Linked DNA regions of Homo sapiens: region 1 is linked to region 2. The links come from fine-mapping of genetic effects on gene expression. Tissue or cell type: whole blood. Region 2 holds a variant in brackets; the other region holds the start of a gene. All regions are shown on one strand. Distances are from middle to middle.

Region 1 (8,255 bases), 22 kb before region 2:
AGTTATAATAGTAATAGGAACCTACTTACTGCTCCTTTGTTTGCTACCTGTACTTCTTCAAATGATAAAAAGCTTCATCACTACCTTAGTTCACCAAAAGCTTCAGCACAAGTGTACTATATGAATCACTATTGATCTGTCTTGCCAGAAGACATGGGTAGTAAAAATGAAAGTGAGAACTCCCACTATTGAGTGAGACTCTCAAAGGGGGGAATAAGGGAGTAGACCACCCCTCATATTGTCTTATGCCCAATTTCTGCCTCCAAAGAAAAAAAAAGTAAAAACTAAAAGGCAAATATCAAATCCACAAGCAGACAGCCCAGCACCACACCCTGGGCCTGGTAGTTAAAGATTGACCCCTGACATAATCGGTTATGTTATCTATAGATTACAGACATTGTATAGAAAAGCACTGTGAAAATCCCTGTCCTGTTTTGTTCCGATCTAATTACCAGCCCCCAGTCACGTACCCCCTACTTGCTCAATCGATCACGACCCTCTCACGCGCACCCCCTTAGAGTTGTGAGCCCTTAAAAGGGACGGGAATTGCTCACTTGGGGAGCTCGGCTCTTGAGACAGGAGTCTTGCCGATGCCCCTGGTCGAATAAACCCCTTCCTTCTCTAACTCGGTGTCTGAGGAGTTTTGTCTGCGGCTCTTCCTACTACACATCCACATCAGTACTTCTTACAAACAGCATCCTTGAATAGTCAGAGGGGGTGCTCTGGAAGCACAGGAATCCCCCTCTCTGGGGCTCTGGTTTGTTTACACTTACACAATGCCCTGGGGCTGGTGACTTTAGATGTGAGGTGTGGAGGTGAGGAGGATACAAAAGAGCGCAGAAATACACTTGTGGAGGAGGAGGGAGCCGAGCACAGGAGCAACGGCAGAGGAATGAGGACCACCCCTCAGCTGGCCTTTCACACCACTCCCTCTCACCTTGTGTTCGCCCTTGGTCTATGAACACTCTCCCAACTTTTTCCAGAATGTGTCCACCCTCCAAATGCCCGGAACAAGAGCAGGGGGTGATATACTTCCTGGGTTCTTAAAATGTAGTCCGAGTCCCCAAAGTAGGGACATCACCTGGGAGGTTTGCAGAGTCGCAGAAACTCAGACCCCTCTTATCACCAGCTGAATTGGAATTGCATTGGAACAAGACCTCAGATAACTGGAGGGCACGTTAGTGGGACACATTGAGGACTGCAATGTGTAAGGAACAGTAGCCAGTCATGCCCCTTAGCCCCAAAGGGTCTTTGACATTGTGTGCCAAATGCTTAAGGATTTTTGCTCTTTGAAATTTCATGATGCAATAGAAACCATATGAATCGGGAGTCTGACAGAACTTGGAAAAAACCCTGGTTCAGTTCCCCTCGAGCAAAAGATTTAACCTTCAGATCTCAAGGACCAGGGAGATAAAATGGGAATAATGATAATCATGCTGACCTCATACAAATACTGAGGTTGCATGACTTAGGAGCGTCTGGTACACAGAAGGGACTAAACCAATGTCAGGTTCTTCTTACTAATAATGAAAAAAACATGCCTGAGAAAGAATGATGCTTTAAGATTTAAACAACCCATGCATCATAACTTACAGGTTCACTTCTTGGTTTATGCAGAATCTTACACCAGATAAAGGGTAAAACAAACTCTACGATTTCATGAAAAGGTTTGGGTAGGAATTGGGAATATAGAAAATATAAAACTGTGCTGCATTCCATGATTTGATGGCCCTAAACAGAGAGGCACTTGGACCACGTGGAGAACAGTGATGCATTTGGGGTCATTCTGACTGAAACATGTCAGGTGTGTTAGACTTTAAAGCAAACAACAACAAACAAAGCAAAGCTCTGATTGAGAAGAGTTATTTCCTCTTAGCACTCTGGTATAAGTAGGTGGAAACTCATCTTTACAACTGTTTGTCTCACTTCATTCTTTGCAGCTGCTTTACAGATCATGATGGGTTTTGGGGATGATTTGTGTTATATAGTTCACACATAAATCACATAATGTTGGCCAGTCGCAGTGACTCACACTTGTAATCCCAGAACTTTTAGGAGGCCATGGCAGGGGGATCACATGAGGCCAGGAGTTTGGGACCAGCCTGGTCAACACAGCAAGACCCCGTCTCCATAGAAGACAGAAAAGCCACAAGCCACAATTCCCACTGCCAGTGATGCACACCTGTAGTCCCAGTTACTTGGAAGGCTGAGGTGGGGGAGGATCGCTTAAGCCCAATAGTCGAAGGAGCTATGGTGGCACCACTGCACTCTACCCTAGGTGACAGAGTGAGACCCCGTCTCAATTTTAAGAGCAACAACAAAAACACATAATGTCAGAACTGAAACAGCCTCACAAAAGTCCAGAAAAAGGCAAGTTGGGAGTCGTGGGCTAATATCAGCTGGAATTCAGCCGTTCCAGATGCTGCCAGTGGCCCTGGATGGAAGTGAAGTCAGGTGGAGATGCCTTTACTCCTTTCCTAGCTCTCTCTTCCCCAGAAGCAACCTTCCCAGTGCCCCCTTCACCTCTCTGTTTCTGAGGGTGTAGATGAGAGGATTGAGGAGGGGGGTGACAATGTTGTAGAAGAGCATGAGGAACATGCCCTGGTCCTGGGAAGAACTGGCTCCTGGCTGCATGTACATGTAGATGATGTTTCCATAGAAAAGGGAGACCACAGTGAGATGGGAGCCGCAGGTGCCGAAGGCCTTCTGCCTTCCTGATGCTGACCGAATTTGTAACACAGCCCTCACAATGTAGCTGTAAGAGAGCAGGATAAACACCAAGGGGGACAGCACAACACCCACCGCCAGGACAAAGACGGTGCCTTCGATGGCCACAGTGCTGACGCAGGCCATCCGGATCAGGGCGGGCATCTCACGCAGGAAGTGGTCCACCTCGTGGTGCCCACAGCGGGGTAAGCGCAGGGTCACAGGAGACATGGCCAAGGAGTTGGCCACCCCACAGCCCCAGGTCACTGACACCAAGCCCCGGCAGAGCCTGGGGTTCATGATCACCATGTAGTGCAGGGGCTTGCAGATAGCCACACACCGGTCATAGGCCATGACAGCCAGAAGCAGGCACTCCACACCACCCAGACCCAGGAACAGGAAGAGCTGGATGGCACAGCCCATGTAGCTGATGGTCTTGTCACATCCATTAAGGTTGTAGAGCAGCTGGGGGATGGAGCTGGTGGTGAAACTGAGGTCCAGGAAGGAAAGGTGGGCGAGGAAGAAGTACATGGGGGTGTGGAGGTGGGGGTCCAGCCGGGACACCAGGATGATGGTGGTGTTGCCTACGAGGGTCAGGAGGTACGCGATCAGGATGACCACAAAGAGGATCCTCTCCAGATGGGGTCGGTCAGAGAATCCCAGTAGGATGAAATGGGTTTGGGTGCTGCCATTGGTTCCATCCATCTCTACTGCTGCTGAACAGAAATATCAATCCTAATAATAATAATAACAGCTGATATTAAGGGAGAACTTACTAGAAGCTAAGCATTCTTCTATGCTTTTTATATTTATTTTATTCATTCAACCCCAACAGTTATATGGAGTTGCACTATTATTATTAGCTCCCAACTTATAGAAAAGGAAACTGAAACACATGTGTGTTGAGCAAACTGTGATATGTAGGAAGACACAGAGCTGATTCTGAACCCCGGCAATGTAGCTGAGAGTGTGCAATCTAAACCACCAGTAGCACTGCCTCCAAATCCAGTGAAGTGAAGGCAAATCCTGCTGTGGCCAAACCACGAATTTTTCTAGAGACTCCAGTCCCTAGGCTCCTGCCAAAAACCTCAAGGACTCAAAATGGAGCCTCAAAATAATCCATCAATAGTATTTAGGAAATACTCTTTACACACAGAGTACTTTATCTATTACTGGTCTCAAAGACACACCTCATTCATTGGGTTACCATTACTGAGGTAATTTTTAAATTACCTCAGAATTTAATTTAATTTAATTTTAAAATTACCTCAGTAGATAAATAATGTAAGAGACAGGCAAAATACACATAAAATCTCTTTTTTTCTCTCTGTCTTTTAAATGGGCCTGGTATTGAACAAATAGAGTGTATGGGTTTTTCTTCCAAAGTACTATATACTGCTTGAGAGGATAAAAGAGATTGAAAAAACTTTGTAACAGATATTACAACTGTAATGCAAAATTCACGCATATGTACAGAAACCTCTATCACGTTCCAACTCTAATACCACATCACATTCAAAGCAAAGCATATTTGATAAGACAAACCACAAGTCTTACAGATGGATATAGGGAGACTTGGTCCATCCTGGTGTTTGGGTGATGGATGCATTAAAAGCCAAGACTTCGCCACTGTGCAATACATGCAGCTAAAAAGCAGTACCCCCAAATTAATATAAATAGATATAAGCATGTATGTGCAGGTAAAAAGCAGTACTCCCAAATTAATATAAATAGATATAAGTATGTATGTGCAGGTAAAAAGCAGTACTCCCAAATTAATATAAATAGATATAAGTATGTATGTGCAGGTAAAAAGCAGTACTCCCAAATTAATATAAATAGATATAAGCATGTATGTGCAGGTAAAAAGCAGTACTCGCAAATTAATATAAATCCATACGTGGAGGTAACAAAACAGTACTCCCAAACTAAGACAAATAAAAATAAATACATGCGAAGATGGCCGAATAGGAACAGCTCCGGTCTACAGCTCCCAGCGTGAGCGACGCAGAAGACAGGTGATTTCTGCATTTCCATCTGAGGTACCGGGTTCATCTCACTAGGGAGTGCCAGACAGTGGGCGCAGGCCAGTGGGTGCGCGCACCGTGCACAAGCCGAAGCAGGGCGAGGCATTGCCTCACCTGGGAAGCGCAAGGGGTCAGGGAGTTCCCTTTCCCAGTCAAAGAAAGGGGTGACGGACGCACCTGGAAAATCAGGTCACTCCCACCCGAATATTGCGCTTTTCAGACCGGCTTAAAAAACGGCGCACCACGAGACTATATCCCACACCTGGCTCGGAGGGTCCTACGCCCATGCAATCTCGCTGATTGCTAGCACAGCAGTCTGAGATCAAACTGCAAGGCAGCAGCGAGGCTGGGGGAGGGGCGCCCGCCATTGCCCAGGCTTGCTTAGGTAAACAAAGCAGCCTGGAAGCTCGAACTGGGTGGAGCCCACCACAGCTCAAGGAGGCCTGCCTGCCTCTGTAGGCTCCACCTCTGGGGGCAGGGCACAGACAAACAAAAAGACAGCAGTAACCTCTGCAGACTTAAATGTCCCTGTCTGACAGCTTTGAAGAGAGCAGTGGTTCTCCCAGCATGCAGCTGGAGATCTGAGAACGGGCAGACTGCCTCCTCAAGTGGGTCCCTGACCCCTGACCCCCGAGCAGCCTAACTGGGAGGCACCCCCCAGCAGGGGCACACTGACACCTCACACGGCAGGGTATTCCAACAGACCTGCAGCTGAGGGTCCTGTCTGTTAGAAGGAAAACTAACAAACAGAAAGGACATCCACACCAAAAACCCATCTGTACATCACCATCATCAAAGACCAAAAGTAGATAAAACCACAAAGATGGGGAAAAAACAGAACAGAAAAACTGGAAACTCTAAAACGCAGAGCGCCTCTCCTCCTCCAAAGGAACGCAGTTCCTCACCAGCAACAGAACAAAGCTGGATGGAGATTGATTTTGACGAGCTGAGAGAAGAAGGCTTCAGACGATCAAATTACTCTGAGCTACGGGAGGACATTCAAACCAAAGGCAAAGAAGTTGAAAACTTTGAAAAAAATTTAGAAGAATGTATAACTAGAATAACCAATACAGAGAAGTGCTTAAAGGAGCTGAAGGAGCTGAAAACCAAGGCTCGAGAACTACATGAAGAATGCAGAAGCCTCAGGTGCCGATGCGATCAACTGGAAGAAAGGGTATCAGCAATGGAAGATGAAATAAATGAAATGAAGCGAGAAGGGAAGTTTAGAGAAAAAAGAATAAAAAGAAATGAGCAAAGCCTCCAAGAAATATGGGACTATGTGAAAAGACCAAATCTACGTCTGATTGGTGTACCTGAAAGTGATGCGGAGAATGGAATCAAGTTGGAAAACAGTCTGCAGGATATTATCCAGGAGAACTTCCCCAATATAGCAAGGCAGGCCAACGTTCAGATTCAGGAAATACAGAGAACGCCACAAAGATACTCCTTGAGAAGAGCAACTCCAAGACACATAATTGTCAGATTCACCAAAGTTGAAATGAAGGAAAAAATGTTAAGGGCAGCCAGAGAGAAAGGTCGGGTTACCCTCAAAGGGAAGCCCATCAGACTAACAGCGGATCTCTTGGCAGAAACCCTACAAGCCAGAAGAGAGTGGGGGCCAATATTCAACATTCTTAAAGAAAAGAATTTTCAACCCAGAATTTCATATCCAGCCAAACTAAGCTTCATAAGTGAAGGAGAAATAAAATACTTTACAGACAAGCAAACGCTGAGAGATTTTGTCACCACCAGGCCTGCCCCAAAAGAGCTCCTGAAGGAAGTGCTAAACATGGAAAGGAACAACCGGTACCAGCCGCTGCAAAATCATGCCAAAATGTAAAGACCATTGAGACTAGGAAGAAACTGCATCAACTAACGAGCAAAATCACCAGCTAACATCATAATGACAGGATCAAATTCACACATTACAATATTAACCTTAAATGTAAATGGACTAAATTCTCCAATTAAAAGACACAGACTGGCAAGTTGGATAAAAAGTCAAGACCCATCAGTGTGCTGTATTCAGGAAACCCATCTCACGTGCAGAGACACACATAGGCTCAAAATAAAAGGATGGAGGAAGATCTACCAAGCAAATGGAAAACAAAAAAAGGCAGGGGTTGCAATCCTAGTCTCTGATAAAACAGACTTTAAACCAACAAAGATCAAAAGAGACAAAGAAGGCCATTACATAATGGTAAAGGATCAATTCAACAAGAGGAGCTAACTATCCTAAATATATATGCACCCAATACAGGAGCACCCAGATTCATAAAGCAAGTCCTGAGTGACCTACAAAGAGACTTAGACTCCCACACATTAATAATGGGAGACTTTAACACCCTACTGTCAACATTAGACAGATCAACGAGACAGAAAGTCAACAAGGATACCCAGGAATTGAACACAGCTCTGCACCAAGCGGACCTAATAGACATCTACAGAACTCTCCACCCCAAATCAACAGAATATACATTTTTTTCAGCACCACACCACACCTATTCCAAAATTGACCACATAGTTGGAAGTAAAGCTCTCCTCAGCAAATGTAAAAGAACAGAAATTGTAACAAACTATCTCTCAGACCACAGTGCAATCAAACTAGAACTCAGGATTAAGAATCTCACTCAAAGCCGCTCAACTACATGGAAACTGAACAACCTGCTCCTGAATGACTACTGGGTACATAACAAAAAGAAGGCAGAAATAAAGATGTTCTTTGAAACCAACAAGAACAATGACACAACATACCAGAATCTCTGGGACGCATTCAAAGCAGTGTGTAGAGGGAAATTTATAGCACTAAATGCCCACAAGAGAAAGCAGGAAAGATCCAAAATTGACACCCTAACATCACAATTAAAAGAACTAGAAAAGCAACAGCAAACACATTCAAAAGCTAGCAGAAGGCAAGAAATAACTAAAATCAGAGCAGAACTGAAGGAAATACAGACACAAAAAACCCTTCAAAAAATCAATGAATCCAGGAGCTGGTTTTTTGAAAGGATCAACAAAATTGATAGACCGCTAGCAAGACTAATAAAGAAAAAAAGAGAGAAGAATCAAATAGACACAATAAAAAATGATAAATGGGATATCACCACCGATCCCACAGAAATACAAACTACCATCAGAGAATACTACAAACACCTCTACGCAAATAAACTAGAAAATCTAGAAGAAATGGATAAATTCCTCGACACATACACTCTCCCAAGACTAAACCAGGAAGAAGTTGAATCTCTGAATAGACCAATAACAGGAGCTGAAATTGTGGCAATAATCAATAGTTTACCAACCAAAAAGAGTCCAGGACCAGATGGATTCACAGCTGAATTCTACCAGAGGTACAAGGAGGAACTGGTACCATTCCTTCTGAAACTAATCCAATCAATAGAAAAAGAGGGAATCCTCCCTAACTCATTGTATGAGGCCAGCATCATTCTGATACCAAAGCCAGGCAGAGACACAACCAAAAAAGAGAATTTTAGACCAATATCCTTGATGAACATTGATGCA
Region 2 (8,255 bases):
AGAGAATGAGAAGGAAAATCAGGAAAACGAGGAGAAACAGAATTAAGGAGGTGATACTGGAATAGTATCAGACCATTCTGAATCAATTTAAGAATTGCCATGTCTAATTCTTATATGGAAGATTTGAAATACAAGGATATTGAAAGGAATAACAAATTATAATGAATGCATAGAAATCCTTATGTAATCCAAGGTCATTAATTTGAAGGAAGACATCAAGAAAATGTGATCTAGAAATAGAGGTTGAGATTGCTCCATTTACAAAATTATTATGCTCTATAATCTTCCCATATGCAAATATTTCATATTCCCTCTTTTGTCCCATGGACATATTTCACAGCAACAACGAATCAAGTGCTGACCTAAATGGGGTATCTGTTAAAACTTAGTATATTGATATCCTTCACCCCACTCCAGGAACGTTCGCTACGCTAGGACTGCATCTTGGGAACAGAATTTTAGAGATGATCATCTCTTACATCAGAAGCAGGATCTAAATGATCCCTGGATGCCCAATTTCCTGACCCTGCTATTGTTGTGGGTGGCAAGATAAGAGGAGTTGCATCACAGATGAAAAAGTAAGGCCGAAGAAGACCAGAGAAGAGTTGGTTGAATGTGTAGATATAAGATCCATCTGTGACATTGTAGAATGAAATTTCACCGGCTTCATAGTCCAAGAAAATCCCAATGCAGCGAGGACTTTCCAGTTGGAGAAGAGGCACTGATGGGGAGGCAAGGACCATGTACTCATTCCCTTTCAGCAGCCACAGGGCCCAGACCCCATTCTCAGGAGATGGCGTGGTTTCCCCCTTTCTTGGCAGTGTGTCTTGACAGACCCCTAAACCCCACTCTGCTCCTTCTCCCACCAGAACCTCCCAGTAATGCCTCCCTGATGAGAAGCTCTGCAAACCCAGGATGCAGGGCCATGTGTCAAATCGCTCAGGGTTGTTGGGGACATCCCTCCATGGTTCTCCATCCTGCACACTGCGCAGGTCGGCGGTCAAGAGCAGACTCGGGTGCGCCGTGGCGGGATCCAGCTTTACATCCACTGCGGAAAGAATGTGGTGGACCAGGTGAAAGGAAAGAAAGGACTGGTAGAAACTTAGGAAACCACTGAAAAGAATAGTCCCACAGTTCCTCACTTTTCTCTCTCTATTAACTCCTAGAGAAAACAAATCAGTATTTCACCTTACAGGTGAAATCTTCTTTATTACTTTATTATTCTTATTCTTTATAACTTTCTGGTATATTCCACTGTTACCTCTGCGTAACCCAGAACTCTTTAACTTTCCCAAAAAAAAACAACTATTGATGACGACAAACCAAGTGAATTATCATTTAGTTTCCTTTCATTTACATCTAAAGCATTTGTGTGTGTGTGTGTGCGTGAGAGAGAGAGAGAGAGACAGAGAGACGGGGTCTTGCTATGTTGCCCAGGCTGGAGTGCAGAGCTATTCATGGGCATAGCCGTGGTACACTACAGCCTCAAACTCCTGGACTCAAGCAATCCTCCCGTGTCTGCCTCCCCAGCAGCTGGGACTACAGGTGCACACCACCATGTCTGGCTTACATCCAAAGCATTTGAGTGCACTTAGGAGGATCTTCTGCATTTAACATAAAATTTATAAACCCCTTAGGAATTTTTTTCTTAAAAATCTATAGAATTTTATTAATATTAAATCCACTACTTCCAAAGTTATATTACTGTGGTAGGCGGAATTCTAAGATGGACCCCATGACCTTCACACCCTGGTGTTAGCCTCATGAGTATGTTACACTATATGACAAGAGAGAGATTATCAAGGTGCGTCTAATCAAATCCCACAAGTCCTGTAAAATCAGAAAGTTTTCTCTGGCTATTGGGTTGGTGGCAGCAGGAAAGGTCAATAAGATGTGGATTTGATATCTCTTTGCTGGCTTTGAAAATGGAAAGGTCACATGAAGAGACAAACGAGTGACCTCTAGAGCTGAGAGTGATCTCCAGAGCTGAGAATAGCCCCCAACCAACAGCCAGCAAGAAAACAGGAATCTCAGTACCGCATTTGCACAGAATTGTATTATGCCAACAACCTGAATAAGGTTGGAGGTAAGGTTCTTCCCCCGACCTACACAGAAGCCTGGCCTGGCCTGGCCAACACCCATATTTGGGCCTTGAGAAAACCTAAGCAGAGGAGCCAGCTGATCCCACTTGGATGTCTGGTCTTCAGAACCATGAGCTACTAAATGGTATGGCTTTAAGCACATAAGCTTGTAGTTATGCGTTATATAACAATAAAAAATACTGATACTCTGAAGTCCCAGTGAGATTGATGAGACATTTGACCCATATACATAATAAATAAATACATCTAGATATGAAACCTCAGTGAAGGGGGGATGTAAAATATTCAGTGCATTTCCTTATTAGCATTGCTTATAAGTAGTAAGTTAATAAATAATATGGTTTGGATGTGTATCGCCTCCCGGTCTCATGTTGAAATGTGATTCCCAATGTTGAAGGTGGGGCCTAGTGGGGGGTGCTGGATCATGGGTGCAGATCCCCCATGAATGACTTAGTGCCATCCCACTGGTGATAAGTGAGTTCTTTATCCGTTCATGCAAGAGCTGGTCGTTTAAGAGGAACCTGGGGCCTCCCCACTTCACTGCTTCCCTCTTGCCATGTGATACGCTGGCTCCTCCTTTGCTTTCCACCATGACTGTAGGTGTCCTGAGGCCTCACCAGAAACAGGTGCCAGCACCATGACTCCTGTACAGCCTACAGAACCATGAGCCAAAATAAAGCATATTTCCTTATATTAATAAATTACCCAGCCTCAGGTATTTCTTTATAGCAATGCAAAATCAGACTAACATGTTAATATAGTTTGATTTTTAATATCAGAACAAATACTGTTTCTACTGCTACTGCTACTGCTACTGCTACTACCACTACCACTATACTTATTTGCCTTTAAACACTTACAGTGAACTACTTTTTTTTTTGAAACGGAGTCTCGCTCTGTTGCCCAGTCTGGAGTGCAGTGGTGCAATCACAGCTCACTGCAGCCTCCACCTCTCAGACTCAAGCCATCCCCTGACCTCAGCCCTCTGAGTAGCTGGGAAGGCACACACCACCATGCCCAGCTAGTTTTCTGTATTTTTTTGTAGAGAAGGGGTTTTGCCATGTTGCCCAGGCTGGTCTCGAACTCCTGGGTTCAAGCAATCCATCCGCCTCAGCCTCCCAAAATGTTGGGATTACAGGCGTGAGCTGCCACGCCCGGTCTAGTGAATTTTTATTGATACCCAACCTGAGTGGTCACGTAACTGCGCATTGCATTATTTTTATTATGTAACCACCCTGAGGGTCACCATTGTCATCCCTACATTACACAAGAGTAGATTCAGAGTCAAAGAGTTTATGTGGTCTTCCCAAACTCTAGAGGTAAATAACAGAGATTGAAAGGTAGGTCTCCATGGATTGTGCATTTAACACAATCTAACAGGTCATGTATTCCCAAGCCATTCCTCTTCCGGCACAGTGGTCTGCTTCATTTCTAACAAAAGAGATCTGTGAAATGGCTTTTGATATGGTCTGTATCCCATTCCTCTCCCTACCCCTTCTCTCCTAAACTCAATTCTTCATCATGATGTGACCATACCCCAACCAAACTGCGCATGTCCATCTTCCCAGGGACCTCCGTGTTGATGAATGGTTACTTGTCAGTTTGTCTTTTTTTTAAGATGGAGTTTTGCTCTTGTTGCCCAGGCTGGAGTTCAATGGCATGATCTTGGCTTACTGCAACCCCCATCTCCCGGGTTCAAGTGATTCTCCTGCCTCAGCCTCCCGAGTAGCTGGGATTACAGGCATGCACCACCACGCCTGGCTAATTTTGTATTTTTAGTAGAGACAAGGTTTCCTCAGGTTGATCAGGCTGGTCTCGAACTCCTGACCTCAGGTGATCTGCCCGCCTCGGCCTCCCAAAGTGCAGGGATTTACAGGCGTGAGCCACCGCGCCCGGCCCAGAGTTCATCTTCAATGATTTTTCTGTATCTCTCAACACTGAGAATCTACTTGTGCTGGAAAATCTCCCTTTTCCAAAGGTAACACTCATCCATGTTTCCCTTCCCTCACTGCTCACTACTCCTTGATCCTCTTTGCTGTTCTCTTCTCCTCCACCACCACCACTGGAGAAACCTATAGTCCCAAGACTTGGACTTCTTCTCTCTCTCTCACCTCACTCCCTATCTACCCGGGTGCTGGCTGGTTCATTGCTTTGATAAAATTCCATTCATATGCTGACTGATTCCCAATGCATGTGCTTAGCTTTGAACTTTACCCTGAAACTCCCTATTGTACATTCATCTGCCCACTTGATAGCAACATTTGAATATTTAGCACTCATCGCAACATCCACATATCCAAAACCCTGTGCCCTTCTTCTGCTTCAACTGTCGCTTTCCTCATCAATATAAGTGGCAATCACATTTTGCCAGTTCGCAAGATCCAAAACCTTGGAATCATTCATGGCTCTTCCTGTTTATAGCACATCATATATAATCCAACAGCAAATCTTAACAGCTCTGCCTTCAGTATATAACAAAAATCTGTCCATCTTGCGGCACCTTCCGTAATAACATCTATTCCAACACATAATCATCTCTCATCAAATTACTGCAAAGACCCTTAACTGCTTTTCCCATGTCAATCTTCTCCTCTCTGTAATTTACTTACAAGAAAGCATATAGAGTGATCCTCATAAAACATTAGTCCAATCAAACTATTTTTCTAGGTACAACTTTCAAC[T/A]ATGTCCTATTTCGCTCAGGGATAAAGTATCATGCTCAGCATGGCCTGCCTATCTAGCCCTTTCTTGGTCTCTCCGACCCTCCTGTCATTTACTCTGCCACAGAGTCCTCACACTGACATCCTCACAGCTCCTGGAACACACCTGCCATCCTCCACGTCAGGCCTTGGCGCTCATTTCTGCTGCCTGAATGCTTTCTTCCAGATCATATATTTGCTGGGTTATCCCCTGCAGGGCGGGGTCTTTCCTGGTCACCTTATTCAAAACTAGAACTTCTCATTACCCTTTGCATACTCTTTTTGATTTTCTTCAATATTCTGTGTCAGCCACTTACAGCCTGTGTATTTTGGTGAAGTACATATCTGCAACACAAAGCTACGGATTGTAGAGTATTTTGTTGTTGTTGTTGAATGATATATTCCAATGTTTAAAAGAATGGGTGAGATAAAATTAATCACACATTTTGAATGATTTCATTCCATAAAAACAAATATGGATATGAGGTTGCTGAGTCTGAGGGTGCCATGACGATTTTAATCAAGTTGGGCATTTAGCATACATTCATCTACCCAGGAGAACGTGGGTACTATGCTGCAGAGATGGGTTTTCTCATTAAGGGACTTTACACTCTTTCCCTCTAAGTAGTGAAGTCACTATTTAGACATAGTTTTCATTACTTGGGATAAATTAGATTTTAAAATGAAATTGTAAACAATACTGAATCTATACTGTTTTAAAGAATAATACAATCAGACTAAACACACTAATTTTTTGTGACACTGCTTATTCCTACATGAAAATAACTGACAATATTTTTGGCTTTATTGACTCACTAATTCAAGCAACTCATCAAATTCTCAGCCAATAAATTAAACCAAACTTCTTGCTAATTGATAACTTTGCAGTGCTTTCATATTGATTACTTTTAGGAGGTGGGGTGCTTTCAAATGTTTCATTTTGTCCTCCAAGCAATTTATTTTTAGCATTTTATAAGCAAGGAAATGTAAATTTACTGGAAGTAACGTTACTCATATCAGCTAATAAGAGATGACCTACAGTTTTAAGCCCATAGTCTAACCAAATGTAGACTCTATGGGTGGCCGTGACTCTGATACTGCTCATGAATATACTAATCCTCGTTCTTCTGGGCGTGGTGGTGCAGGCTCTATGGGTGGCCGTGACTCTGATACGGCTCATGAATATACTAATCCTCGTTCTTCTGGGCGTGGTGGTGCAGGCTCTATGGGTGGCCGTGACTCTGATACGGCTCATGAATATACTAATCCTCGTTCTTCTGGGCGTGGTGGTGCAGGCTCTATGGGTGGCCATGACTCTGATACTGCTCATGAATATACTAATCCTCGTTCTTCTGGGCGTGGTGGTGCAGGCTCTACGGGTGGCCGTGACTCTGATACTGCTCATGAATATACTAATCCTCGTTCTTCTGGGCGTGGTGGTGCAGGCTCTACGGGTGGCCGTGACTCTGATACTGCTCATGAATATACTAATCCTCGTTCTTCTGGGCGTGGTGGTGCAGGCTCTATGGGTGGCCGTGACTCTGATACTGCTCATGAATATACTAATCCTCGTTCTTCTGGGCGTGGTGGTGCAGGCTCTATGGGTGGCCGTGACTCTGATACTGCTCATGAATATACTAATCCTCGTTCTTCTGGGTGTGGTGGTGCAGGCTCTATGGGTGGCCGTGACTCTGATACTGCTCATGAATATACTAATCCTCGTTCTTCTGGGCGTGGTGGTGCAGGCTCTATGGGTGGCCGTGACTCTGATACTGCTCATGAATATACTAATCCTCGTTCTTCTGGGCATGGTGGTGCAGGCTCTATGGGTGGCCGTGACTCTGATACTGCTCATGAATATACCAATCCTAATTTTTCTGGGCATGGTGCACTCTCCCACGGAAGGAGACCAGGGAATTTTACCCTAAAATATGGCACCCTGGTATGCCCATTATTTTAAATTAAAGGCCCTTGGAGACCATCACACACTGTAAGAAGCTTTATTCTAACACTCATTTATCTGCCTGAAGTCCCTGCATTTTAATTAATTTAGCTCATATTGCAGGAAGACAGACAAGTCTATCAATACACCTGGACAGACTTTAGTCACAAACCACTGTCTACTTTTCAACACTTTGTCCCAAGCCACTGTATGCACTCCAAGCCCAATGAATCCTCCAAAAAATCATTTACTATCTCCCTAAAATCATCCACACCTCCCCATCTCCCTTTCCTCCAATAAAGAAAGGTATATAAGCATCTGTATCCCACTGCGTTATTGGGTCATTACTCTCCTGCGATTCCACTGTGCTATGAATGTTAGACTTTTTCTATGCCTTTGTTCCTATTTGTCTTTGGTCAGTTGATTTTCAGCAAACATTCATAGGGAAAGGGGAAAGTTTTCCCTTGCCCCCTACACTGTCTCCTTGATAGTTTGACTTAGCCATGAAATCTCAGGAAGGCCAGATGCTCTAATTCAGCATGGGTACCTTTAAGAGGAGTGCATGAGTCACCATGCCTATGATACTGTGAAGTACGTATTTGGTCTACAGTGCAGGAGGCACCATACCTATGACACTGGGAAGTATATATTTGGTCTACATTCACCATGCCTATGATACTGTGAAGTGTGTATTTGGTCTATATCCTGTTTACTGACATACAGTTCTTAAAATCCTTGAAATTTCCAGAAATACAAGAGTGTCTTTTGTAAGCTAATAAGATGAATTGTGGTTGGTGATTACCCAGAAAGCCTCCCACTGGGTGTGGTTGCCAGGGGAACCAACCATGTGATTAGAGGCTTGAAACTTTCAGTCCTTCACGCCTCACCCCCCCCCACCTCTGAAGAGGGAGAGGGGCTTAAGGGTGGGTTGGTAAACCAATGGCCTATGATCTAATCAATCACGTCTACATAGTGCTTCCATAAAAACCCAAAATAACTGAGTTCATTGGCCAGGCACAGTGGCTCACGCCTGTCATCTCAGCACTTTAGGAGGCCGAGGCAGGCAGATCATTTGAGGTCAGGAGTTCGAGACCAGCCTGGCTAACATGGTGAGACCCCGTCTCTACTAAAAATATAAAAATTAGCCAGGCATGGTGGCATGTGCCTGTAATCCCAGCTACTCGGGAGGCTGAGGCAGGAGAATCGCTCGAACATGGGAGGTGGAGGTTGCAGTGAGCTGAGATGGCGCCACTGCACTCCAGCCTGGGCGACAGAGTAAGACTTCATCACACACACAAAAAAAAGAACTGAGTCCTGAGGACTTCCAGATCACTGAACACACGGAGGTTCCAAAGGTAGCAGGCCTAGAAAGGGCGTGGAAGCTCCGTACCCCTTCTCACAAACCTCGCCCTAAGAATCTCTTCCATCTGTTCATCTCTAGCCTCTGTAACGCCCTTATAATAAATGAGTAAATATGTGTCCCTAAGTTTTGTCAGCTGTTTCAGGAAATTAAGT

What was found. PIP is the estimated chance that this variant, and not a neighbour inherited with it, causes the effect.
Region 1: OR2W3 starts here. The variant in region 2 is fine-mapped to the expression of OR2W3 in whole blood (INTERVAL, PIP above 0.99).

What each region holds. Positions count from the first base shown.
Region 1 is chr1:247,890,743-247,898,997 of GRCh38, reverse strand. It overlaps OR2W3 (olfactory receptor family 2 subfamily W member 3), which reads right to left and starts at 3,411. Exons shown (of 1, transcript NM_001001957.2): 1 at 2,467-3,411. The coding sequence starts at 3,411. The coding sequence ends at 2,467.
Region 2 is chr1:247,868,693-247,876,947 of GRCh38, reverse strand. TRIM58 (tripartite motif containing 58) reads right to left here. Exons shown (of 6, transcript NM_015431.4): 6 at 1-1,048. The coding sequence ends at 459. Among named protein-coding and RNA genes, the nearest start is that of TRIM58, 16 kb to the right of the region's middle. The variant T/A (reference allele first, on the strand shown) is at 4,784.